Regions from separate parts of the Homo sapiens genome. Here region 2 is linked to region 1. Evidence: fine-mapped expression QTL. A gene starts in region 1. The other region holds a variant in brackets. All regions are shown on one strand. Distances are between the middles of the regions. Region 1 holds the start of C1QBP (complement C1q binding protein). Region 2 holds the start of LOC101928044 (zinc finger CCHC domain-containing protein 9-like).

Region 1 (12,667 bases):
CTAGAGCCATCATAAAGGACAAAATAAAGATTCTTCCAAGGATGGAAAGGTATCTCTGAGAACCGATAGGCAGGAAATAGAGTCACAGGAACCAGAAAAAGCCTGCAGGAGCCAGGCCCGCCACTTTCTCTGGACCTGCTGCTTCTCTTGCTTTGAGTGCCCTCTGCGTGCCTCCTTCCCTTTTCTCACCTTTACCTCCGCATGGAAGTGATTTCTCTGCATGGCCCCTCCACTCAAGAGCCCAGCAGAGATTGACAAGTTTTCCAGTTTCAAACCTAAAAGATGCCTGGAAGAGAAAAGCTGGCCAGCTTAGGTCCAGCGTGTGTGTACCACTGGTTTGTTCATCTGTGCCCAGGGGCGTAGGTTACATGCCCCACTCATCAAGAGCAGTAGAACAAGGACATTGACTGGTGACTGACATTTCCTCTGATGAGACAGGCAGCATTTCTACTAAGAGTAGCAAATGTGAAGGCACAGATAGGAATCATGAAACGGGGCGAGGAAAGAGAAGGCAGCCAGCTATGGGGGACCATGGAGTGTCTAAAGAAGAGTGGTGAGGCCGGGCGCGGTGGCTCACGCCTGTAATCCCAGCACTTTGGGAGGCCAAGGCGGGCAGATCACTTGAGGTCAGGAGTTCAAGACCAGCCTGACCAAAATGGTGAAACCCCGTTTCTACTAAAAATACAAAAATTAGCCAGGCGTGGTGGCAGGCGCCTGTAATCCCAGCTACTTGGGAGGCTAGGGCAGGAGAATAGCTTGAACCTGGGAGGTGGAGGTTGCAATGAGCTGAGATTGCGCCATTGCACTCCAGCCTGGGTGACAGAGGGAGACTCAGCCTCAAAAAAAAAAAAAGAAAGAAAGAAAAAGAGCGGTGAGAGGAAAGACAGGCGAGCAGCTCAGGGTGGCTCCTTCGTGGCTTCACCACGGGAAGTTTGCATTGTTTTGCAAGGAGCAGTAGAGACATTGTTGAAGGTATTTGAGTGGATGAAGAGTGATTCGAGTTGTGCTTTAGGTAGATTAGCTTGGCAGCAGCAGGTGGGTGAATCGGAGTGAGGAGATGGTGAGATGGTCAAAGCGAGAGGGAAGGGCCTTTCCTTTCCGGGCCGTCCTGATGGAATTTAGGTGAGGGGTGGGTCACCCAACCTGCCTGTGGTCTGGTGGCTAATGTGAGCACCTCCCTCCCAGCCCTACCTTCACAGGCGGTAGTTTCCCTGTTTCTGGTCCGTGCTCCTCCAGCTGGGCCTTCTTCCCCTGACCTTGCTGATCCTTGGTGACCACCTCCGAATGTCAGAATCCACATCGTTAGGCTCACAATGTGGGCTGCTTTTGCCCCAGTGGGTCCAGTTGCCCCAACACGCTGTGTAGTGCTGACCAGTGTTTACGTGTGGGGTCGGCTCCATTCCTCGCTTTCTCCCGAAACAGATGTCAATGCCAATCGCATCATCCCGAGGAGACGTGGAGAGTGTCCGCCGCTGCCTGGCTCACAGCCTCTTCATGAGCACCGCCGAGCTTCAGCCAGATGGCACCTATGCCACCACGGACACCCACCAGCCAGTGGCCATCCACCCGTCGTCTGTCCTCTTCCACTGCAAGCCGGCCTGCGTCGTGTACACTGAGCTGCTCTACACCAACAAGTGCTACATGCGGGACCTCTGCGTCATAGATGCACAGTGGCTGTACGAGGCTGCCCCTGAGTACTTTAGGAGGAAGCTGAGAACCGCCAGAAACTGAGCCGCCCCAGGATGCCGCCAGAATCACTGGTCCCTGGGAGCTTGGACTACAGTTGTCCTTACAGCAGGCTTCCAGGTTGGCGCTTAGAGAAGCCTTGGAATCAGCTGAAGGTGCCTGACTTCCAGGAGCGTGAAAGCATCTTTGCTCAACTCCTGGGACTGAACCATATAGACATGGACATATCATTTGTACCTGGAAACCTCAAAATTATGCTTTTGGTTCTTACTGGGTGACTTTGACTTAATTTAACACCTGAGCCTCAGTTTTCTCATCTGCCAAATGGGAGTAATAATAATAATCCTTATAAAATTGGGTTCATAAAGTTTAGAGAAAAGGAATGGAAAGTACCCAGAACTATGCCTGGAGCACGCACGACACACGTACAGTGAGTTGGGAGCCGTTAGGCTGAATGTTACTGCTTGCCATATGATGTGAAGTACAGCAATATCCCAAGTTCTTGTGACTGAGGGAGATTTTCTGGAAGGGCCACAGGAGGTTGCGGAGCTTGGATGTTGCCCTTAGTTCTTGTTTAATGTCTCTCTGAATGCAGTTTTAAAATAGAAAACAAAACTGACTTCTGTAGAAGTTTCCAGAGGGAGGTGCTGTTATCTCGTACCTCCTGGGATGGCGATCCCTACTGAACGCTTGTGTCTCAGGGTGGACCACTCTGTGTCTGTCTCCAAGCAGAGACCAGTAAAGGAGCCTCCTGGTCCTCAGTGCGTGACCCTGTCAGTGCTTTCAGGAGACATGTAAGCTTCCTGGGTGAAGGTTGATTTGTACCTTCTGAATCCTGTCACGTGTAGACATGGGAAACTGACCTATCAGTGTTTTGTGTGTGTAGGTGACTCCCACATACACAGTTGCCATTTTTCTCTCTAACTGGGCACCAGTGAACATGCGGGCATGAGGAGTGACTGTGTACCATTTCAGCTGTTTCTTTTCGGGCAGTCCCCTGGTCAGAGGGGGTGGGGGTGGGGGAGGGGAGAGGGGTACCTAGAACCCAGAGAACATTGGCTTATGCCAGATACCACACCACATCTGGGCTTACATTCTTGTATCTTTTTTGGTGTGTGGGCGGGGGGGGTGGGGGGCAGTTCAGTGAAGTCTAGAAGACCTGCTGGACAAATTCTAAAAGAGCTAGAGCTGTAACACTTATTCTTGCATCTTATTAATTTTCTATGATATTTTTTCCTTCTTCGTAGGGACTTGGGACAATCTGGCTTTGCTGCTTTCTAACTGCTAGGCACCTCTCTCTAACCCTCATTGTCAGAGGGAATTGGAGGATATCCACAGTCTGTTCCTGTTCTGATATTCTGAGCAGAGAAAAGGCACTAACGGTTCCTCTTAGCTATTTAATTATCAGAAGCAAGTAATCTTTCCCCAGATAATATTTTGCCCTAGAAGAAGCCGTGATTTAGCTCTTTTATTGTGCTTACTTGGTCCAAATACATCTGTGGGGTGTTTTGTCATTTCTTAATGAATGAATCATAGTTATAACCAGGGGCCAAGCTGCCCAAGAGGCTCTTCAGAGATCATGGATGCTCTCTTTCTGGAAGCTGTGGCCTGATGGAGCAGCCCCATTCCAGGGTCCCATCTGTCCGGAGTTGTGTATGTCAAGTCCGGCTCAGTCTTTATTTCCAACACTAGCCGTGGTCCTGTGCAGTCAAGCTCTCAGCTAGTGTTTAGGGCTGTCTGTCAGAAATGGTTATACGTGGGCAAAAGAAGATCTGACAGCTCCTATATACCTTATCTTACTGAATTCTTAAACTTTGAACCAGTTCTTCCACTTACTGACTTGTTACCACTGCTGACTTTCTGAAAAGTTTTCCAGTTTTTGTTTTTTGTTTTTTGTTTTCCAGTAGGGGATTAGAATGTTTAGTCCTACTTAGTAAGAAAAATATTGTATTTTTAATCATTCATAGTGCTGGTAAAAAAAAAAAAAAAAAAAAAAAAATTGGGGGGTGGCCGGGCGCAGTGGCTCACACCTGTAATCCCAGCACTTTGGGAGGCCAAGGCGGGCGGATCACCTCATGCCTGTAATCCCAGCATTGGGATGGGAGGCTGAGGTGGGTGGATTGCTTGAGAAGTTCAAGACCAGCCTGGCCAACATGGCAAAACCCCGTCTCTACTAAAAATAGAAAACTTAGCTGGGCATGGTGGCACACGCCTGTAATCCCAGCTACCGGGGAGGCTGAGGCACAAGAATTGCTTGAACTTGGGAGGCAGAGTTTGTAGTGAGCCAAGATCACGCCACTGCATTCCAGCCTGGCCGACAGTGTGAGACGGTCTCAGAAAAAAAAAGAAAGAAAGAAAGAAAAAGAAAAAACTTGGGGTAATTTATGTCCAGCTTAAGTACCTGAACAGTTTCCGGAAATGTATATTTTTTTTCTGAGAGGCAAAGGATGTAAACAGCTTCTAAGTAGCTTTAATGTTTCTGTACAGAAATAAGTTTATCCCTGTAACATTGTGGTAGAGTTTTAATACAGTATTTAGTTTTTTATTGGGCTTTTTTAAAAAGTTAACTTTTAACATAGCTGCTCAGGGATTAAATCAGATTGGAAAACCCATTCTGACTCCACATACTGCTACAAAGAAATACATCGTTGTTTATATTGAGCTGCAGGAGATAGTACACTTTAAACTTAAGAAAGTTAAATGTTTCACAATAACATTGCAATATAATCTTCAGCTACTCTCTTTCCATTGGTAAAATCTCTGATGGTGTGATAACTCTTTGCCAACCTACGAAACCCATATCTGGAAGAATCACCAGCTCCCGTGAGCAGCTTCATGTAAATAGATGCACTCCAAGCAGATTGCATGCCTCAGGTGTTTGTCTTCTAGTAATCATGGAGTGTGCAACACCCAGAGTAACACTACAAGGGGCAGGACTGCAAACAGCAGGTCCTGGCTAAAAACCCTTAATGCTGCATTGCTGCCAGTTGTAAAGAGATGCCTGAATGGAGGCAAGTTCTGCCCTGTGGGTGAAACTGATGATGTACTGTACTGTCATATATAAATCCACTAAATCCAGCTACCAGGAACTGCCTGGAACTGTGGCCATGCATTTTTTTTTTTCTTTAAAGACCAGTGTGATAGTAGGCCATGCATCTGAGATACGATATTCCTTGGTAACTAGAGGGAGAAAAAAAAATCAAGTAGGTTCAGGCTTATGTTGTATTTTGAGAGTCTGGTTTTATTTGAACAGAAATAACTCTACAGAAAGCTCTTGTAAATAATGCTCAAATTTGCACCCGACGATCAAATCCATTAAAAATGAATCTTGTATATGATGTGTGTGGCTTGTTTCTTGCATCTCTTTTCCATTATTCATAGAAAATTATTTAGAAAATATTAAGTGTTAGTCTTACCATGAGTTAGTAAGACATACCTTCTTAGTAGCTTATATGTCCTGTATATCCTGGGAAGGTAGGATTGTTGATTTTTAATAAATCTGAACCCTGTCTTTGGGTTATATTAATTTACTGGAGAAACTCACAGAACTCAGGGAAACACATTTACCGGTTTCATACAAAAGATATGACCAAGGATACAGATAAGGAGATGAGCAGGGTGGGGAATGGGGAAGAAGCTCCCAGCCTCCATGCCGTCCCTGGACCACCACCCTCCAGGAACCTCCATGTATTTAGCTATCAGAGGCTCTCCAAACCCTGTCCTCGGGTTTTTATGGAAGCCTCTGGACTTATCTAAATGATATAAGCTGGCTTCTTGTCCCCAGAAAAATGATGTTCCATTAGAACTTGGATGCAAGGTTGGAGGTGCAGAGAGGGAAGGTCACAAAAATTAATCATGGATCCTGCCCTTGAGGATGTCACAGTCTGGTTGGGTTTAACCTGGTTAAAGCAGCAACGCTAGGAGGTTCCTGTTGAAAAGAGAATGAAGCATATGGGCTGGGTGCGCACAAGCATGAGTTCCGAGCCGGTGGAAAAAAAGGTTCTAGAAGGCCTCTTTCAGGAAAACCCTCAGACTTTCCTTTGCTCTCACAACACAACAATCAACACAGAAGACTTATGTGGCCAAAGGTTTGGGTTTTTCCCCTCCACACTAAGCAGCAGACACCAGCTGGGTGTCCTCCAATTCAATCCCAACAGTATCTACCTGGAGATAGTGTCAGATCCCATAGGTTGAGGGCTCAGTCCCCAAGACCGCCCCCACCTTCAGACAGCAATGGCAAGTCTGGGCCTCTGAAACTTCCGACCAACCCGCTTCAAGTTGGGGTTCCCACGACCCCCCTCTTTGGATTATGTTAACTCACTGGAGCAGTTCACAGAACTCAGGGAAACACATTCACCGGTTTCATATAAAGGATATGACCAAGGATACAGATGAGATGAGCAGGGTGGGGAATGGGGAAGAAGCTCCGAGGTTCCTTGCCTACCCTGGGCCACCACCCTCCAGGAACCTCTACGTATTCAGCTGTCAGAGGCTCTGCAAACCCTCTCCTCTTGGGTTTTTATGGAAGCTTCTGGACATCAGCATCCCTTCCCCCAGGGTATATGGTGGGACCTTCTCTGGGAAGGGACTTAAGACCCATAATCAGAAATGTGGAAGGAGATTAGAGTCCTGCTTTGGGGCAGGTAAAAGGAGGGCAGGAGAAGGGGAGAGTCTGTTTCCTGAGGCCTAACACACCCAACATTATCACAGAACATTGTAACAAGGGCTATAGGAGTTACGACCCAGGAACTGTGGATGAAAACCAATACATATATATATCATAACACCACAGCCTCCTAGAGGAAAGTGACCGTGGAAGGGTCTGGTGAGAGCTGGCGGGAGACAAGAGTGCATTCCACGCAGCCCAAAAGCCTTGCGTGCTTTGAGAACAGCAGGTGGAAAGTGGGTAAGCGGCCACTAGAGGGAATTAAACAGCTTCGGACAGCGGACTCGGCAGCGCAGCAAGAAAGCTCCGGAATCCGGATTCGAGGCTTCCCGGGCTGCACCGGAGTCTCCAGCAGAGGGCGCGATTCCGCCCGCTGGCCTTAGGTCGTCAGAGCGCCGGCGCGGGAAGCGCTTCCGGGCAGGGGCGGGGCTTCCGGCGGCGCCTCAGGTCGCGGGGCGCCTAGGCCTGGGTTGTCCTTTGCATCTGCACGTGTTCGCAGTCGTTTCCGCGATGCTGCCTCTGCTGCGCTGCGTGCCCCGTGTGCTGGGCTCCTCCGTCGCCGGCCTCCGCGCTGCCGCGCCCGCCTCGCCTTTCCGGCAGCTCCTGCAGCCGGCACCCCGGCTGTGCACCCGGCCCTTCGGGCTGCTCAGCGTGCGCGCAGGTTCCGAGCGGCGGCCGGGCCTCCTGCGGCCTCGCGGACCCTGCGCCTGTGGCTGTGGCTGCGGCTCGCTGCACACCGACGGTGAGGTTTAGCGGGCCGGGGGTGTGGTTTGCGTTCAACAGAGGGAAAACGTAGACCAGGAATAGGGCCTGCAACCGACCTCTGAGGTCTGGGACATTTTTCCATTGATTGGCAACCAGCGGGCTAAACCCACGTATGATCATATTTCCCCCACCTCCCCTATCCAGCAGTTTCGTTTTCTTTTGGTAGGGGGTGAATAAAATTAAATACTAGGGTACCTTTTTCCTTAGTCTTATTCTATCGAAAGTGGACCTTTGGGAAGGCCCATGGTCGTGGTTGAAAATAGCATAGTTATATCGTTTGGCAAGTGGAAGAGGATTGGAAATTCTCCTGGTTTATAGCGGAAAGTGGTAATGCGTTCATTGTTGGAAATCACTTTTCCAGAATCAGGCTCAGCTTCCTACTACTATTATGGTATTTTTACCGATAAGGAAACAGGCTTCTAGAGTAACCGTAATAGCAGAGAGATTAGAAACAGTCCAGGTTTCTGGCTGCAATAACCTGGGTAATAGTTTTATGTTTTAGACTAACTGGCTTTCCTTTTTATGTATCTGGATTTCTTTTCTAGGAGACAAAGCTTTTGTTGATTTCCTGAGTGATGAAATTAAGGAGGAAAGAAAAATTCAGAAGCATAAAACCCTCCCTAAGATGTCTGGAGGTTGGGAGCTGGAACTGAATGGGACAGAAGCGAAATTAGTGCGGAAAGTTGCCGGGGAAAAGTAAGTACTGGTCTGGGGATCCCAGGGCAGCAACTCCCTTAACCTTGCAGGACCCATCCTGGGTCATCCCCAGAAGAGCCTTGAGTTCAGGTGTGGATACTTTGATAAATGGGTTTCAAGAGAGTGAAGGATTCATTTGGACAACTTCGTAAGCCCCAGGCAGTCCATTCACCGAACACAAATTTGCTGTGGGCTGGTTACTAAGGAGACAAAAATGTAGTGCAAAAAAGTACTGGCAGAATCAGTTTGATCTCTGATTTACAGCCCTGATAAAATAGGACACTGCTCTCTAATGTTTAGTATGGGTGAAAATGAAAAATATGTAACTTCTATGTAACAGGATGGGGTTACACTGTAGTAAGGGCTGCCATCAGAGGTGGGGAGTTTGTGACCTAAGTCAGCTCCCCCATCATCTCCTAAACTGTTAAAGTGTTTACACTTTTCTGCATTATAGTCATCCATAATCTCATTACACAGATAAACATTTGGCATCTTCCAGGTTTTTAAATTGAGCCTGGGCGCGGTGGCTCACACCCATAATCCCAGCACTTTGGGACGGGCAGATCATGAGGTCAGGAGAAAATCCTGGCTAACACTAAAACCCTGGCTCTAGTAAAAATTAACCGGGTATGGTGGCACGTGCCTGTAGTCCCAGCTACTCGGGAGGCTGAGGCAGGGGAATCGCTTGAACCTGGGAGGTGGAGGTTGCAGTGAGTCGAGATCGCGCCACCGCGCTCCAGCCTGGGCAACAGAGCAAGACGCCATCTCAATAATAAATAAATAAATTGAATTTCCTTCATAATTGACCTTATGATGTGTATGTAATTTTTTTAAATCACAGCTTTTATGAGATTTAATTGAGATGGCATACGATTTACCCATTTATTGAAGTTTATTAAATTAAGTGGTTCTTAGTCCTCGCAGAATTATGCATCAGTTATCACTACCTAATTCTAGAACACTGTTGTCATCCCCAAACAATACCTATTAGCAGTCACTCATTATTCCTCCCTGTAGCCACCCCAGGTAATCACTAAGCTACTTTCTCTATGGGATTGCCTCTTTTGGACATTTCATATAAATGGAGTCATACAATTTGTAGCTTCCCCCCCCAACCCCACGGAGTCTTGCTCTGTCACCCAGGATGGAGTGCAGTGGTGCGATCTTGGCTCACTGCAACCTCTGCCTCCCAGGTTCTGACAATTCTCCTGCCTCAGCCTCCTTAGCTGGGATTACAGGCGTGCGTCCGGTTAATTTTTGTATTTTTAGTAGAGACAGGGTTTCACCGTGTTGGCCAGGCTGGTCTCAAAGTCCTGACCTCGTGATCCGCCCGCCTTGGCCTCCCAAAGTGCTGGGATTTCAGGTGTGAGCCACCCTGCCCACCCTATTTACCTTTTTAATTGTTGGGTTGTAAAAGTTAAGTTTTTCTGGGTACAACTATCTTATCAAATTAATGATTTGTAAGTACTGTTTCCCATCTTGTGGGTTTCCTTTTCACTTTCTTGGTAATGTCCTCTGACACAAAAGTTTTTAATTTTGAGGAAGTTCAGTTTACCTATTTTTTTGGTCGCTTGTGCTTTTTTATTTATTTTTTACTTTGCTTCTAATTCACCAAGTGCAACTTGTGCTTTTTTAGTGTCACGTCTAAGAAACCACTGCCTAACCCAAGGTTGTGAAGATGTATGCCTTAATTTTTTCAAAGTTTTCTAGTTTTAGCTCTTAGTTTAGGTCTGTGATTCATTTTGAATATGGTGTGAAGTAGGGTCCTGATTCTCTTGCCTGTTGCATAGTGTGTTTTTGCCCTACACAGGTCAATTGTGTCTTCTGTAATCTCACCTAAACACCATTTGCGCAAGGTTTTCATAGCTATTTGGGGGCCATTAAAAATAATGCTCTGATGAACGTCATTCAATTTCTGTGCCCAGGAGCTCAGCTTAGTCAGCACAGTTGGAATTAGACAGATTTTGTCAACCTCAGACTGCCTCTGTTGCCATGGAAAGGTGGCTTCCTGGCAGAGCAGCTAGTTAGCACAAGTGGAGGGCGGCACTTCATGTACTCTTTTTTTTTTTTTTTTTTTTCTGACAGAGTCTTGCTGTGTCTCCAGGCTGGAGAGCAGTGGCGTGATCTCGGCTCACTGCAACCTCCACCTCCCAGGTTCAAGCAATTCTCCTGCCTCAGCCTCCTGAGTAGCTGGGATTACAGGCGCGTACCACCACGCCCAGCTAATTTTTTTTTTTTTTTTTTTTTTGTATTTTTTAGTAGAGATGGAGTTTCATCGTGTTGGCCAGGATGGTCTCGATCTCTTGACCTCGTGATCTGCCCACCTCGGCCTCCCAAAGTGCTGGGATTACAGGCGTGAGCCACTGCGCCCAGCCTTCATGTACTCTTGTGTGGAATGGTGCCTGCCAGAGTTGCATAGCCCAGCAGTTTTGGTTCTAAACCTTATGTCCCAAGAATTTTGACTCAAACTTTGGAACATGATTTGTCAGGTGTGGATTCTTGCACCTTAAAATTGTCACTAGTTGGTGTGTCTGGCCTGCTTTGTGATTATGAAACTTCCCACAAGTACTCTAAGGGATGAGTCTCTACTACAGCCCTTGTTCTTTGTGAGGCATTCCCTTCCCCGTTCCAGGGCTGCTCTCGGTGTTTAGCAGAGGCACCCTCCATCGCTTCTTCCTTTCCTTGCAGGGCAAATTTTCTGACGGGGAAAGTCTCTTAAAGGGGCTTCTGTTCCATCTCACCAGCCTCTCAGGTCCTTACTTTGACCAAGGGTTCCCTGGAAAGACCAGGGTGGGCAGTGTCAGCTGGCTGTGGCCATGAGATGCCCAGTCAGCACATGGCAGTGAGCCCTGGGGTACTGGCCCTGTTGGGAGTAACCCATGCATGACTTGTTTGGCTGAGATAAACTGAGGCCAGCTTTGGCTTCCAGCAGCTGGTACATGGTAGGCACACTTCAGACCTGCTGAGTCACTCAGGATTGGATGTAGGCACCCAGCCTAGTTTGAAGTTCTGCATATAATTCAGCCAGCTAGGACAGAGACATTGTTTCAATACGCCTTTTTAACTGTAGCAGATTTCCATGTTTATGTGTTAACCTGCTCGGTTAAAACCATGCCTTGTCTGTTTTGCCTTGTCTGTTTTCCCTTGCCGTTTTAGAATCACGGTCACTTTCAACATTAACAACAGCATCCCACCAACATTTGATGGTGAGGAGGAACCCTCGCAAGGGCAGAAGGTTGAAGAACAGGAGGTAAGCTAATACTATAATCAGCTTTTACCTCAGTTCTGACAGGCTGTGCCTGGGGCTTAGAGGAGGAGCGTTTTTCTTTGGTCTTTCAAAAAAAAAAAATTCCTCTAAGTCCAGTCGCATGGCTCACGCCTATAATCCCAGCACTTTGGGAGGCCGAGACGGGCAGATCACGAGGTCAAGAGATCGAGACCATCCTGGCCAACATGGTGAAACCCCGTCTCTACTAAAAATACAAAAATTAGCTGGGCATGGTGGCAGGTCCCTGTAATCCCAGCTACTCGGGAGGCTGAGGCAGGAGAATCGCTTGAACCCGGGAGGCAGAGGTTGCGGTGAGCCAAGATCACACCACTGCACTCCAGCCTGGCGACAGAGCAAGACTCTGTCTCAAAAAAAAAAAAAAAAAAAAAAGAGAGAGAGAATGGCAGGGGCATAAGAGACTTTAACTGGATCATGCCTACTCTTCAAACATTTCAGGAAGTGCTGTGCCCAGCCTAGTAACCAGCCAGTATGAGGGCCACAGAGTCCCTAGACATTCTGCCCAAGAGCCATCAGTACAGTGTTGGGTCATGACCTGGTGTGGACGGCGCAGCTCTCTGGTGTGCTGCTTTCCCAGCCACCCCAACTAGCATCTCCCTGACGTTGGACCCAGTCTGCTCCCAGAGCTCCGCATCAGAGGAAAAGCTGCTGCTGTTATTCAGCCATAAGGATGGCCAGGTTCCCCAGCCTTTGACCCTGGTCCCTTATGAAGACTCCTGGAACAGTCAAGCTGGAAAGAGATCTTGAAACTTTAGGAAAGCTTTGCAGTGTACGGGTGGAGGAAAAGGCTTGGAATGTTAAGGGACTGATATAAACTCAGTTAATTGGCACATAGCTGAGGCTGGTATCCACATTTCTTAACTGAAAACCCAGTGTGTTATTTAACCAAGCAGGGTGCCAACAGAAGTGAGATCAAGCTCTTCATTTGGGAATAGTATGGCATAAGACTATTCAAATGGCTACATAATATCCTAATAGTGGTGGCCATCAGACACTCTGAACAGAGATCCTTGATCCAGCCATCCATCTCCTTCCAGCAGCAGCATGTATTGACTTCTTGTTTCCCCAGCCTGAACTGACATCAACTCCCAATTTCGTGGTTGAAGTTATAAAGAATGATGATGGCAAGAAGGCCCTTGTGTTGGACTGTCATTATCCAGAGGATGAGGTATGCAGGATGGAGTGCTAGCCTCTTGGCACCCCTGGGGAACAGTGTGTCCCTTGGGAACTTCCTGTCCCTATTTTAGCAGAAATTTAAACACTTTTCTAGCTTAGACCAGCCCAGCAGGGGGAGAGAGGTGGGGAGTGAGGGAAGAGGGTTAAAACCTGATGAGTTTCATGCTGTCAGTGGCCCCCTTTCTTCCCCTGAGTCTAGCTTGTCCTGGAGAACCCTTCAGTTTCCCAATATTGTTTCTTCTCAGGTTGGACAAGAAGACGAGGCTGAGAGTGACATCTTCTCTATCAGGGAAGTTAGCTTTCAGTCCACTGGCGAGTCTGAATGGAAGGATACTAATTATACACTCAACACAGATTCCTTGGACTGGGTGAGTGCTTGATAAGGTGGGGGA
Region 2 (12,667 bases), 70 kb before region 1:
CTTTTTTCTAAATCAAAGAATCTCAGAAGTGAGTGGGAGCTTGGAGGTGTACCATGTGTGTTAATAACTTAGCACTGTTTCAGATGCATCTTCATCTCTGTTTTCCTCCAGGAGATCTCATGCCTGCAACTACTCTGATCCCTCCAGCCCGCATAGGTCAGTAACAGCTCTCAGAGACCACAGGAGGCGGTGGCAGTTCTGGGGTACTGTCTGGTTCTGGGGGAAGGGAAGAGAGAAAGGAAGGGACTCATCACTGCAAACCTCACAAAGAGTCAGGCCCTGGAGAGCGGTGCATGGTCGCTCCCCATACCCCCTTGTCCTATCCACAGAGACCCTAGAATTCCTTATCTGACAGCCTCCAATGTGCCCAGCAGGAACCCCACTCCCGATCCCCACTCTGGCAGAATGCCAAGCTAGATGCTGCCATGAGGGAGGACACAGGTGCATTTCTGGAGGCAGAAGGAAGCGAGGGATGCAGAGATGAGAGAGGAAAGCACTGAAGGTGGGGATTGGAGGTGGAGGCTGTGGTTGGAGCCCTTCTTTGTTCGTTGCCAGCCGTACCTTCACCTCTGGATGCCCCGCAGTTGCTGCACTTTGTGGACCAGTATCGAGAGCAGCTGATAGCCCGAGTGACATCGGTGGAGGTTGTCTTGGACAAACTGCATGGACAGGTGCTGAGCCAGGAGCAGTACGAGAGGGTGCTGGCTGAGAACACGAGGCCCAGCCAGATGCGGAAGCTGTTCAGCTTGAGCCAGTCCTGGGACCGGAAGTGCAAAGATGGACTCTACCAAGCCCTGAAGGAGACCCATCCTCACCTCATTATGGAACTCTGGGAGAAGGGCAGCAAAAAGGGACTCCTGCCACTCAGCAGCTGAAGTATCAACACCAGCCCTTGACCCTTGAGTCCTGGCTTTGGCTGACCCTTCTTTGGGTCTCAGTTTCTTTCTCTGCAAACAAGTTGCCATCTGGTTTGCCTTCCAGCACTAAAGTAATGGAACTTTGATGATGCCTTTGCTGGGCATTATGTGTCCATGCCAGGGATGCCACAGGGGGCCCCAGTCCAGGTGGCCTAACAGCATCTCAGGGAATGTCCATCTGGAGCTGGCAAGACCCCTGCAGACCTCATAGAGCCTCATCTGGTGGCCACAGCAGCCAAGCCTAGAGCCCTCCGGATCCCATCCAGGCGCAAAGAGGAATAGGAGGGACATGGAACCATTTGCCTCTGGCTGTGTCACAGGGTGAGCCCCAAAATTGGGGTTCAGCGTGGGAGGCCACGTGGATTCTTGGCTTTGTACAGGAAGATCTACAAGAGCAAGCCAACAGAGTAAAGTGGAAGGAAGTTTATTCAGAAAATAAAGGAGTATCACAGCTCTTTTAGAATTTGTCTAGCAGGCTTTCCAGTTTTTACCAGAAAACCCCTATAAATTAAAAATTTTTTACTTAAATTTAAGAATTAAAAAAATACAAAAAAGAAAAAATGAAAATAAAGGAATAAGAAGTTACCTACTCCATAGGCACAGCAGTCCCGACTGGCTGCTGGTTGGCTATTTTTGTGGTTATTTCTTGATCGTGTGCTAAACAAGGAGTGGATTATTCATGAGTTTTCCAGAGAAAGGGGTGGGAATTCCTGGAACTGAAGGTTCTTCCCCCTTTCAGACTACTTAGGGAAACTTCCAGATGCTGCCATGGCGTTCGTAAACTGTCATGGCGCTGGTGGGAATGTCTTTTAGTATGCTAATGTATTAAAATTAGCATATAATGAGCAGCGAGGACAACCGGAGGTCCCTTTCATCACCATCTTGGTTTGATGGGTTTTGGCTTCTTTACCACATCCTGTTTTATACGAGGAGTCTTTGTGAAACCAGTCCTGCCAACCTCCTATCTTATCCCCACCTCAGACATTACATACTCGTCCTTAATCTTAAGAGGTTGTAGAAGGACAGAGATCTATCTTCTGTCACTGCTTCATGCTGAACAGGGGCCATCATCCCTACCTGCTCTGGAGGCATAGAAATGTCTTCGTACCTGATCGAATGACTTATAGGGACTCCATCTTTTCTGCAGTGGCACAGGCTGGAACACTGGACTAATTATTTTTCTCTGAAACTGTTGTAGCCTGGAAGACATAAACTTGAACCGTCCGAACACCTGATGAATATAACAAATATTTTTAAAATCAAATAGCACCTAGTGATAATTCATAAAATACTTAAGCCCAGTTTTAAAGAAGAGATCAAAGCCAAGCATGGTGGCTCATGCATGTAATCTTAACACTTTGGGAGGCCAAGGCAGGAGGATCACTTGAGCTCAGGCTTTTGAGACTAGCCCGGGCAACATAGACTTTGTCTCTTTAAAAAAATAAGAAAGAAAAAAATAAGAGATCAGATGCCATTTGGAATCTAAGTGAATAGGCTGGAAAACTAGTCTTCTGTTGTCTGAAATACAAAGCCAAACAGATTTTTAATAAGAGAGATTTTTATGAGAACAGAAGAAAAAAAGGTTAATGCTGGACACAGTCTATCCAGGTATTAGACTCAAAAGCATCTTTAGTTATAAAGCAGGAAAGTGGTGGCAATCTGACACGCCTGTATCACAAGGTATAAGCTTTAGCTTGCAGGGCCTCAGGAGAAAGCTAGTAGTAATTTTACTGTATGCAGATCTCTAAGCTGGGGGTGACACAGGAGGTGGGCAGGACTGGCTTCACAAGATGCAGGTCACAAAGACTCCACTGATAAGATGCGGTAAAGAAGCTGGCCAAAGCCCACCAAAGCCAAGATGGCAATGAAAGGGACTCCTGGTTGTCCTCACTGCTCATTATATGCTAATTTTCACCCTCCTGTAGGACCAGCTCCAGCAGTTGTGGGACCCAGTGCAAAATGGAAACACAGGGCCCCTCGTTCAAAAATGATAAGAATGTCAAGACGGTGACAACAGAACATGAAATCAAGCGCCAGGCCCTGCTGAGCTCAGGGCTCTGTGTGACCGCACAGGTCACACACCCATGAGACTGGCCTTGTCTTTCGGGTCCTTCACGCCCCACCCACCCATCTCCTTTACCACATGCAGACCTCCACTCTCCACACAACCCTTCCTCCAAGAGGACAGTCAATGGGAAGTAAGAAGATTTAAAAGACAAGGGGCAAAGAAAAATGCAATGGTGTGTTTCCATTGTAGAAAACCTGGTCGTGGAATTGCGGATTGCCCTGCCGCCCTTGAAAATCAAGATATGGGCACTAGAAGATGTTACAAGTGTGGGTCCACAGATCACGAAATAACCAAGTGTAAGGCTAAAGTAGACCCGCCTCTTGGCGAATGTCCTTTTGCAGAATGTTTTGTCTGTGGAGAAATGGGGCACCTGTCTAGATCTTGTCCTGATAATCCCAAAGGACTCTATGCTGATGGTAGTGGTTGCCAACTTCATGGCTCTGTGGAACATTTAAAGAAAGATTGCCCTGAAAGTGAGAATTCAGATCGAATGGCCACAGTTGGTCTGTGGGCAAAGGGAATAAGTGCAGACTATGAAGACATTGTGGATGCACCAAAACCACAAAAACCCAAAACAAAAATACCTAAAGGTGTTAATTTTTGATAACAACTAGTACTGTCATTAGTTACCACCTCATTGTTACTTTCTAAACCAGGCCCACTTCACAAGTTACAGCTGGGCTCCCTTGTAGCCAGGACTATACTGTAAATATCAGTATGATCTGGGTGTGGTCAAAAACAATTTTCAACAGAGAGAAAGAAGAAAGAAGAGAGAGAAAGAAAAAGGAAGAGAAAGAGGAAGAGGAAGGAATGAAGAAAAAGAGGAAGGAAGGAAGGAAAGAGAGAAAGGAAAGAGAAAGAAAGAAGAAAGAGAAAGAGAAAGAAAAAGAAAAGAGAAAGGGAGGGAGGGAAAGAAGGAAGGACCTACGCGAGGAGGGGCTCCGCCAACCCTCTAAGCCCCGCAACCCCCGCATGCCCCGCCTCCTTCTGCAGACCTCCCCGTCCCTCATCCCAGCAAGTCCTCACGTTAGTTGCCGGAAGCCTAGGAAATGTATTCCTAAATCTGGAGTCGTCTCCATGGCAGCGAGCCCCGAAGTGGAGCCAGTCTTGGAGTAGGAGAAAGGCCAGACACAAACAAGTGTGTGGGGATGGGGGAGACACACATGCATGTCCGCTTTGGATCCAGATTCTCTTTTTTTTTTTTAGACGGAGGCTCGCTCTGTCGCCCAGGCTGGAGTGCAGTGGCGCAATCTCAGCTCACTGCACTCACTGCAACCTCCACCTCCCGGGTTCAAACGATTCTCCTGCCTCAGCCTCCCGAGTAGCTGGGATTACAGGCGCCCACCACCACACCCGGATAAATTTTTGTATTTTTAGTAGAGACGGGGTTTCACCATGTTGGCCAGGCTGGTCTCGAACTCCTGGCATCAAGTGATCCGCCCGCCTCGGCCTCCTAAAGTGCTGGGATTACAAGTGTGAGCCACCGTGCCCGGCCTGGATCTGGATTCTAATAGCAACAGCTAGAATTCTGAGGGACAGGCAGTGAGCTGGGAATCAAATTCTTGGCTCTACCACCCATTAGATGTGTGATCTTGAAACAGGTTTTCAGATGTGTAAGAAGGGAATAGCAAAGCTTGCGTCAAACGGTTGTTTGACTAGGTGAGCTCATGAGTGGGAAGTTGTTCTGGGCGAGCTGGTACACAACACTAGGCAGACAGTAAATCTTAGCTTCTTTGAGCCT[G/A]AGGCTGTTGTAGGTGCCAGTGATAACAGAGGCCAGAGTATCTATTCTCAAGCAATTTATATTCTAGTGGCAAGGAGATACGAAATACGCACCCATGTCTGTAATCCCAGCACTTTGAGAGGCGAAGGCCTGAAGATCTATTGAGACCAGGAGTTTGAGACCAGGAGTTCAAGACCAGCCTGGGCAACATAGCAAGACCCCGTCTCTTAAAAAAAAAAATTTTTTTTCATTTTTTTGGCCAGATGCAGTGGCTCATGCCTGTAATCCTAGCACTTTGGGATGTCAAGGCGGACGGATCACCTGAGGTTAAGAGTTTAAGAGTTCAAGACCAGCCTGGCCAACATGGTGAAACTCTGTCTCTACAAAAATACAAAAATTAGCTGGGCATGATGGCAGGTGCCTGTAACCCCAGCTACTCGGGAGGCTGAGGCAGCAGAATTGCTTGTACGTGGGAGGCACAGGTTGCAGTGAGCCGAGATCACGCCATTGCCCTCCAGCCTGGGCAACAGAGCGAGCCTCTATCTCAAAAAAAAAAACCAGTTTTTTTAATTAGCCGGGCATCGTGGTACATGCCTGTATTCCCAGATACTCTGGAGGCTGAGGCAGAAGGGTCCCTTGAGCCTAGGCTCCAGTGAGCCATAATCATGCCACTGCACTCCAGCCCTGGAGACAGAGCAAGATCCTGTCTCTAAATAAAAATAATTGGCTGGGTGCTTACCTATAATCCTAGCACTTTGGGAGGCTGAGGCCAATGAATTGCTTGAGTCCAGGAGTTTGAGACCAGCCTGGGCAGCATAGTGAGACACTGTCTCTATTTAAAAAAAAAAAAGAAGAAGAAGAATAGAAGAAAGATCTTTTTGAATAGAGATAGATGGCAACTTCCTCAGAATGGATGTGACGGTTGAACAGCACATGGAGATGATGGGAATGAGAAGTGCAGGGCAGCAGGGATCATTCTCAACAATGGTGGAAAATTGGAGTCTTCCAGGATCACTGTGTTCAGACTAATCCACCCTACATGAAGTTTTCTTTCTCTTTAAAGTGGGCCACTTGGAACAGGGACCCCTGTCAAAGAATGCATTCAAGAATCATGGATTTGGCTGGGCGAGGTGACTCACGCCTGTAATCTCAACACTTTGGGAGGCTGAGACGGATGAATCACCTCAAGTCAGGAGTTTGAGACCGGCCTGGCCAACATAGCAAAACCCCATCTCTACTAAAAATACAAACAAAATGAGCTGGGCGTGCTGGCTCATGCAGTGAGCCGAGATCACGCCATTGTACTCCAGTGTAGGCAACAAGAGTGAGACTCCATCTCAGAAAAACGGAAGAATCATGGAATGCTTCCACCAGGCACTCTGATGGATGGTGGGAGCCCTGGGCTGAGCTTAATGCCTTTCCTGAAGGAGTCACTCTCCCAAGGAGTAGGATTTGCCAGGTGCTAGAATCCGATAGAGGCCATGAGCAATACTTGTCTCAATGGTGGGATAACTACAGATTTAAACTTTGAGCCATGCACACACTCTGGTCCAGGCCCCAGTCCTGGAGCAAGAAGGAAGCAGGGGAAGGAAGAAGGTCCTCTGGAACCTGTGATTACCTGTGTTGTGTCAGGTTGTATGATTGTGGGGACCCCATTGAGTGCTACTCACAGGTTAGCCCCAGGCAGGTAGGAATGAGAAGGAGGAGAATAGGAGAAGAAGAGGAAAGGCTAGACAGGAGCATGACTGTTGGAGAGAACTTGAAGGGAAGTCTAGCAGTAGTATGGACGCTGTGCTATTGGTCAGGAGTCCTGCTGTGTTCTTGGTTTCCTAGCAACTGCTGTTAAGCAGGTAGTTGCTAGGCAATGCGGGGCCATCTAGGCGGTTAGGTAAGGACCTTTGTCTGCGTGGGCATGAATCAGACCATCACAGAGTATTGTTAATCCTGAAAATGGCCACTGGGTCCATTACTTAGATTTTTTTGGCCTTGTTGCACAGAAACTAATATAACCATGGTGCACAAGTTCTGGTCAAATGAGAAAGAAGTCACCCCATGATCTCATTATCCAAACAATACAAAAATTCTGTCTTTCCTCTTTCCATTCCAGTCTTTCTCTGCAGGAACACATTTTCATCTTGTTATCATCCTAGTACATGGGGTTTTAAACCTTGTTTTTTTGACTTTGATTTAGATCATCACAAGCATCCCTCAAGCTACTTAAGAGTTTTCAGGATAATCTTCCCCTGCATGACTCCTTGCAGTAGATATATCATTTACTTAACTATTCTCCTCTTGTTCTGACATTGAGTTTGCTTCCAATTTTTTGCCACAATAAGCAGTACTGCAATACACGTCTTTCTGCAGAGAGCTTTTCGTTATCCTTTAGATCACTGTCTTGAAGTCAATACTAAGGGATAGTATCAAAGGGCATAAATAGTCTCATGACTTTCTATATTTTGCAATAGCTTCCCTCATGCTGGGTGCAGTGGCTCAAGCCTGTAATTCTCACACTTTAAGAAGCCAAGAAGGAGGATCACTTGAGGCCAGGAGTTCAAGGCCAGCCTAGGCAACATAGCAAGACTCTGTCTCTACAAAACAAATTTATTTTAATTTTTATTTTTCTTTTGAGACAGAGTCTCGTTCGGTCACCCAGGCTGGAGTGCAGTGGCGCAATCTCAGCTCACTGCAACCTCGGCCTCCTAGGTTCAAGTGATTCTCCTGCCTCAGCCATCTCAGTAGCTGGGATTACAGGTGCACACCACCATACCCAGCTAATTTTTTTTTTTTTCTGAGACCGAGTCTCGCTCTGTCCCCCAGGCTGGAGTGCAATGACACGATGTCAGCTCACCGCAACCTCCGCCTCCATGGTTCAAGCAATTCTCCTGCCTCAGCCTCCTGAGTAGCTAGGATTACAGGCGTGCGCCACCACGCCTGGCTAATTTTTGTATTTTTAGTAGAGATGGGGTTTCACCATGTTGGCCAGGCTGGTCTCGAACTCCTGACCTTGTGATCCGCCCACCTAAGCCTCCCGAAGTGCTGGGATTACAGGTGTGAGCCACTGCGCCTGGCCGCTGGCTAATTTTTTTCTTTTTTGAGACGGAGTCTCGCTTTGTTGCCCAGGTTGGGGTGCAGTGGCGCAATCTCGGCTCACTACAACCCCCGCCTCCCGAGTTCAAGCGATTCTCCTGCCTCAGCCTCCTGAGTTTCCAGTAACTGGGACTACAGGCACGTGCCACCATGCCTGGATAATTTTTTGTATCTTTAATAGAGACGGGGTTTCACTGTGTTAGCCAGGATGGACTCGATCTCCTGACCTCGTGATCTACCCGCCTCGGCCTCCCAGTGGGATTACAGGCGTGAGCCACAACACCCAGCCAATTTTTGTAGTTTTAGTAGAGGCAGGGTTTCACCATGTTGCCCAGGCTCGTCTGGAACTCCTGGACTCAAGCAATCTGCCCACCTCGGCCTCCCAGAGTGTTGGAGTTACAGGCTTGAGCCACCATGCCCGGCTGAATTTCTTGATTCTTTAATGGCTGGTTTTTGTTTTCTTTTGATTTTAGAAGGCCTTAATTTGAAGACCTTTAATTTAATTTAATTTAATTAATTTAATTTATTTGAAGACAGTTTGAGGGAGAACAAAATGTCCTCACAGTTATTTTTTCATTATTTTAGTTGAATATATCTATAATATAGTTTATGATTACAACCATTTTTAAGTGTAAGCACATTCACCTCGACGTGCAACGATCACCACTGTCCATCTCCAGAATTTTTTCATCTTCCTTAATTGAAATTATGTACCCATTAAATAATAATTCCCCATTCCTGCCTCCTTTCAGCCCCTGGGAACCACTATTCTACTTTCTGTCTCTTTAAATTTGACCACTCTAGAAACCTTATATAAGTGGAATCATACAATCATTGTCCTTTTGTGCTTGCTTCTTTCACTTATCACAAAGTGTTCAAGGTTTATCCATGGTATTGCATGTGTCAGAATTTTTTTTTTTTTTTTTTTTTTTTTGAGATGGAGTTTTGCTCTTGTTGCCCAGGCTGGAGTGCAGTGGTGCAGTCTCAGCTTACTGCAACCTCCACCACCCGGGCTCAAGCCATTCTCCTGCCTCAGCCTCCCAAGTAGCTGGGATTACAGGTGTCGACCATCATGCCCAGCTAATTTTTTTTTTTTTTTGTATTTTTAGTAGAGCTGGGGTTTCACCATGTTGGCCAGGCTGGTCTCAAACTCCTGACCTCAGGTGATCCTCCCGCCTCGGCTTCCCAAAGTGCTGGGATTACAGGCGGGAGCCACCTCACCCAGCCAGAATTTCCTTCCTTTTAATGTTGGAAAACATCCCATTGTATGTCTATGCCACATTTTGGTTATCTGTTCATCTGTTGATGGACACGTGTGTTGCTTCCACCTTTCGGCTATTGTGAGTAATGCTGCCATGAACATAGGTGTACAGATATCTCTTTGAAACCTTGTTTTCAACTCTTTTGGGTATATACCCAGCAGGGGAATTGCTGGATTATCCTCACAGTTCTTAACCATTTAGTGTGGGTCAGCTTCTGGGTGGATAGAGTAATGGAAGGAGAAGAATGATGTTGCTGAATTGGCTGTTTGATGATTTTTTTTTTTTTTTTTGAGACAGACTTTTGTTCTTGTTGCCCAGACTGGAGTGCAATGGTGCCATCTCGGCTCACTGCAACCTCCACCTCTTAAGTTCCAGCGATTCTCCTGCCTCAGCCTCTCGGGTAGCCGTGATTACAGGCGCCCACCCCCATGCCCAGCTAATTTTGTATTTTGAATAGAGACGGGGTTTCACCATGTTGGTCAGGCTGGTCTCGAACTCCTGACCTCAGGCGATCCACCCTCATCCGCCTCCCAAAGTGCTGGGATTACAGACATGAGCCACCACACCTGGCCCTGTTTGATGATTTTTGTTCTATAGGAGCGGCACAAAGAGAAGAGGACAGAACAAAAGTAACCAAATCTATTCTCTCTGAGGAAGATCATATGTAGAGAGCAGAGGTCTGTGTGTGTGAAAGAAAACGGGGAAGAGGATGAAAATGTCCAGAGTGGTGAGCTCTGCTAGGCCCTGGAATGAAGCTGAGATGCTGGAAGCGCTAAGTTCTCTCTAGTGGGAGAAAACCCACTGTGGAAAGCTAATCATTTGATGTAGAACCTCACCAACGACCAGGAAGAAGCAATCAGTGCCCAGCTAGGCTAAACTGGGCCTGCGATAGGGTGTGAGTAGGGCCAGCTTCCTGGAAGTGCAACCTGTGCAATGGCAGTAGGCCCCCATGCTTGGGGTTTAATGCGTGGCAGTCAGTGCCTTGAAACTCTTAATAATTGTATCTTTGAATTTGTGCTTTGTAAGTGAAGTTTGATGGGACCTGGAGCATGCATAGGGGCAGGAAGGGAGGGTAGGGGGGCTTGGAGCCACAGCTCATGTGGAATCCCACCTGCCAGGTGCCACCTCACAGCGCCCAGACAGGTTCTTAGCTTCCCACTGTCTGCCCCGTGGAGCCCCAGGCTTTACTCAGCCTCCCCTTCTCTGCCTTGCTCAGCAACCATTGCTACCCCTAACCCCAGCAGGGGATTGAGTGGAGCACGGGGATGATCAGCATTGGATGTGAGCTCCCAGAAGCCTCTCAGGGTGGGGCAGGCAGCTGACCCTGCATTGGGCTAGAAGTGCCACAGCACCTTCAGCAGGTGACTAGGCTTATCCAGGCACATCCTAGTGTAGAGGTTGCAATACACTTGCAGGTTTCCCATCAACTGTGGGTTTGGGTAGAGGACCTGTGGAAAGGGGAGATTCCTGGCTTGACTTCCCTTCTCCCAGCCAGGGCACGCATATAAATTAGAAGTTGGCAGGAGAGGAATTCGGCAGCCATGGTTTCCAGGATAACAAATAGCTATAGCCCAGGCAGCAGAGATTCCCAGAAGGTCCTTCTCTCCCACCCACCCACTGACACATACACCCCACCACCACCACCACCACCAAAGCCTGTTTCCTCAGCTGGGCATGAACACTTCGAGCTAAAAGTGGCCTTTGTGAATTTTGCCTCTTGCTCTGTGTACACATTCTAAAGGGAACAAGTCTGTTTTGCTGCAGGGTGAGGCCCAGAATGCGGCCTGGGAAAGGCTAACAGGGCACAGTCTTTGATGGTGAGCAAGCCTGGGGTGGGTAGCTGAGGGGATTGGGAGGTATACCTCTTACCCTTGGGTCAGAGAGATGTGGGTTAGAACCCCAGCAGTCAGTGTTTTATTCTATTCTATTCTATTCTATTCTATTCTAATTTTTTTGAGACAGAGTCTCAGTCTATCACCCAGGCTGGTGTGCAGTGGTGTGATCTCAGCTCACTGCAACCTCCGCCTCCTGGGTTCAAGCGATTCTCGTGCCTCAGCCTCCCAAGTAGCTGGGATTACAGGCATGTGCCACTATGCCCGGCTAATTTTTGTATTCTTAGTAGAGAGGGGGTTTTGCCATGTTGGCCAGACTGGTCTCGAACTCCTGACCTCAGGTGATCCACCTACCTCAGCCTCCCAAAGTGCTGGGATTACAGATGTGAGCCACCACACCCGGCCCCCAGCAGTCAGTATTAGTGGCAGATTTTAGATTCCTTCACCTCTCAGCCTCAGTTTCCTCATTGGAACATTGGAGAAAATACTGGTGCCTAATTTAGGGGGTCATGAAAATTAAGTGAGACCATCTCTGCAGAAATGTTGAGCACAGTTCCCAGCACACAGTCGGTGGCCAGTGATTGGCTGCTGCTGCTGCTGCTGCTATCATCCATGTGTGTCCTAGGATTCCTCATAGAGGGGGTCACCAACATGATCAACTGGCCATTGTCCAGATCCAGGCTTTGGCCTGGCAGACTCAAATCTCTGATTCCTATTGACTCAGACAGTGTATCTTTCTTCCAGAGGCAAATACCCCTAAATGGATGAAGGAAACCTATCAAAGTATAGCACCGGAGAAAAGATCCCCCTAGAAGAGGCCTCTCTCACCTCTGAGAGGGGTATGTACTCTGGGCAGGTCCCAGAAGCAGGAGCTAAAGGTAGCCTTTGTCCATTCAGGGTTTTTTTTTGGTGGATTCTGGCTCCAGGCCCTGGACTCATGAGGTTTTTCCTGGAACGCTCTGGTGTCGAGCAGAGTGTGAAGTTGTAGCTTGGGATCTTCCAGTATCTGTCCTGTCAGGGATGTCTAGTGGTCCTGAAGTCCCTGGGCTGGGACGAAGTTAGCTCTTGTTGCTGGGCATAGGCATAGCTTGCACCAGGATGAGGCCATGGAGTCAGCCAAGCTCTCTCAATTCCTGACAGACAGAGCCCCCAGGGGTCACCTGGGCTGGGACCAGCACTGTTTTGTGATATATTCATTTCTGTACAGGTAGACCAGGTAAAAAATAATAAGGTGTCCTAGAGACACCTGGGCCTCTGCTGTCTGAGCTCCGGATTTAGCCTCACATCTTCTCAATATGCAAAGGACCCTGCAGTTACTAAAGCATTTTTAACACCTGCACTCCTCACTGACACCCAGCTCCTCCCCAATAAGCCTTTGCATGGTTCTGCCCGAGACCCTCTTGGTTACTGAGACTTCCCCACTACCTACTCCCACTTAAGCTGCATAGGTAGGTTTGGGTGACTTTCTCAATGCCACAGCCTTACATAAAGCTCTTCCATCCCACTCTACACACCCTTCCATTCCACCTTGAAAACCCTCTCATTGCACCCTACACACCCTTTCATTCTAGCCTCACATCCTTCCAATCATCCATCACACAATTCCATTTCACCCTTCACACCCTTCCATTCCACCTTGAAAACCCTCCCATTGCACCCTACACACCCTTTCATTCTAGCCTCACATCCTTCCATTCATGCATCACACAATTCCATTTCACCCTTCACACCCTTCCAGTCCATTATTCATTCACACCATTTCATTCCATTCTTCACGCCAT

What was found.
Region 2: its variant is fine-mapped to the expression of C1QBP in whole blood (INTERVAL, PIP 0.93).

What each region holds. Positions count from the first base shown.
Region 1 is chr17:5,433,269-5,445,935 of GRCh38, reverse strand. It overlaps C1QBP (complement C1q binding protein), which reads left to right and starts at 6,781. Exons shown (of 6, transcript NM_001212.4): 1 at 6,781-7,094; 2 at 7,663-7,813; 3 at 10,970-11,063; 4 at 12,169-12,267; 5 at 12,521-12,643. The coding sequence starts at 6,863. DHX33 (DEAH-box helicase 33) reads left to right here. Exons shown (of 12, transcript NM_020162.4): 12 at 1,423-5,019. The coding sequence ends at 1,731. RefSeq lists an enhancer at 6,385-6,564 and silencers at 6,624-6,806, 6,785-6,954, 7,065-7,114.
Region 2 is chr17:5,502,962-5,515,628 of GRCh38, reverse strand. It overlaps NLRP1 (NLR family pyrin domain containing 1), which reads left to right. Exons shown (of 17, transcript NM_033004.4): 16 at 112-156; 17 at 556-1,511. The coding sequence ends at 875. LOC101928044 (zinc finger CCHC domain-containing protein 9-like) reads left to right here and starts at 2,903. Exons shown (of 1, transcript XM_047437231.1): 1 at 2,903-3,677. The coding sequence starts at 3,002. The coding sequence ends at 3,589. It also overlaps the pseudogene RNU7-31P. The variant G/A (reference allele first, on the strand shown) is at 4,727.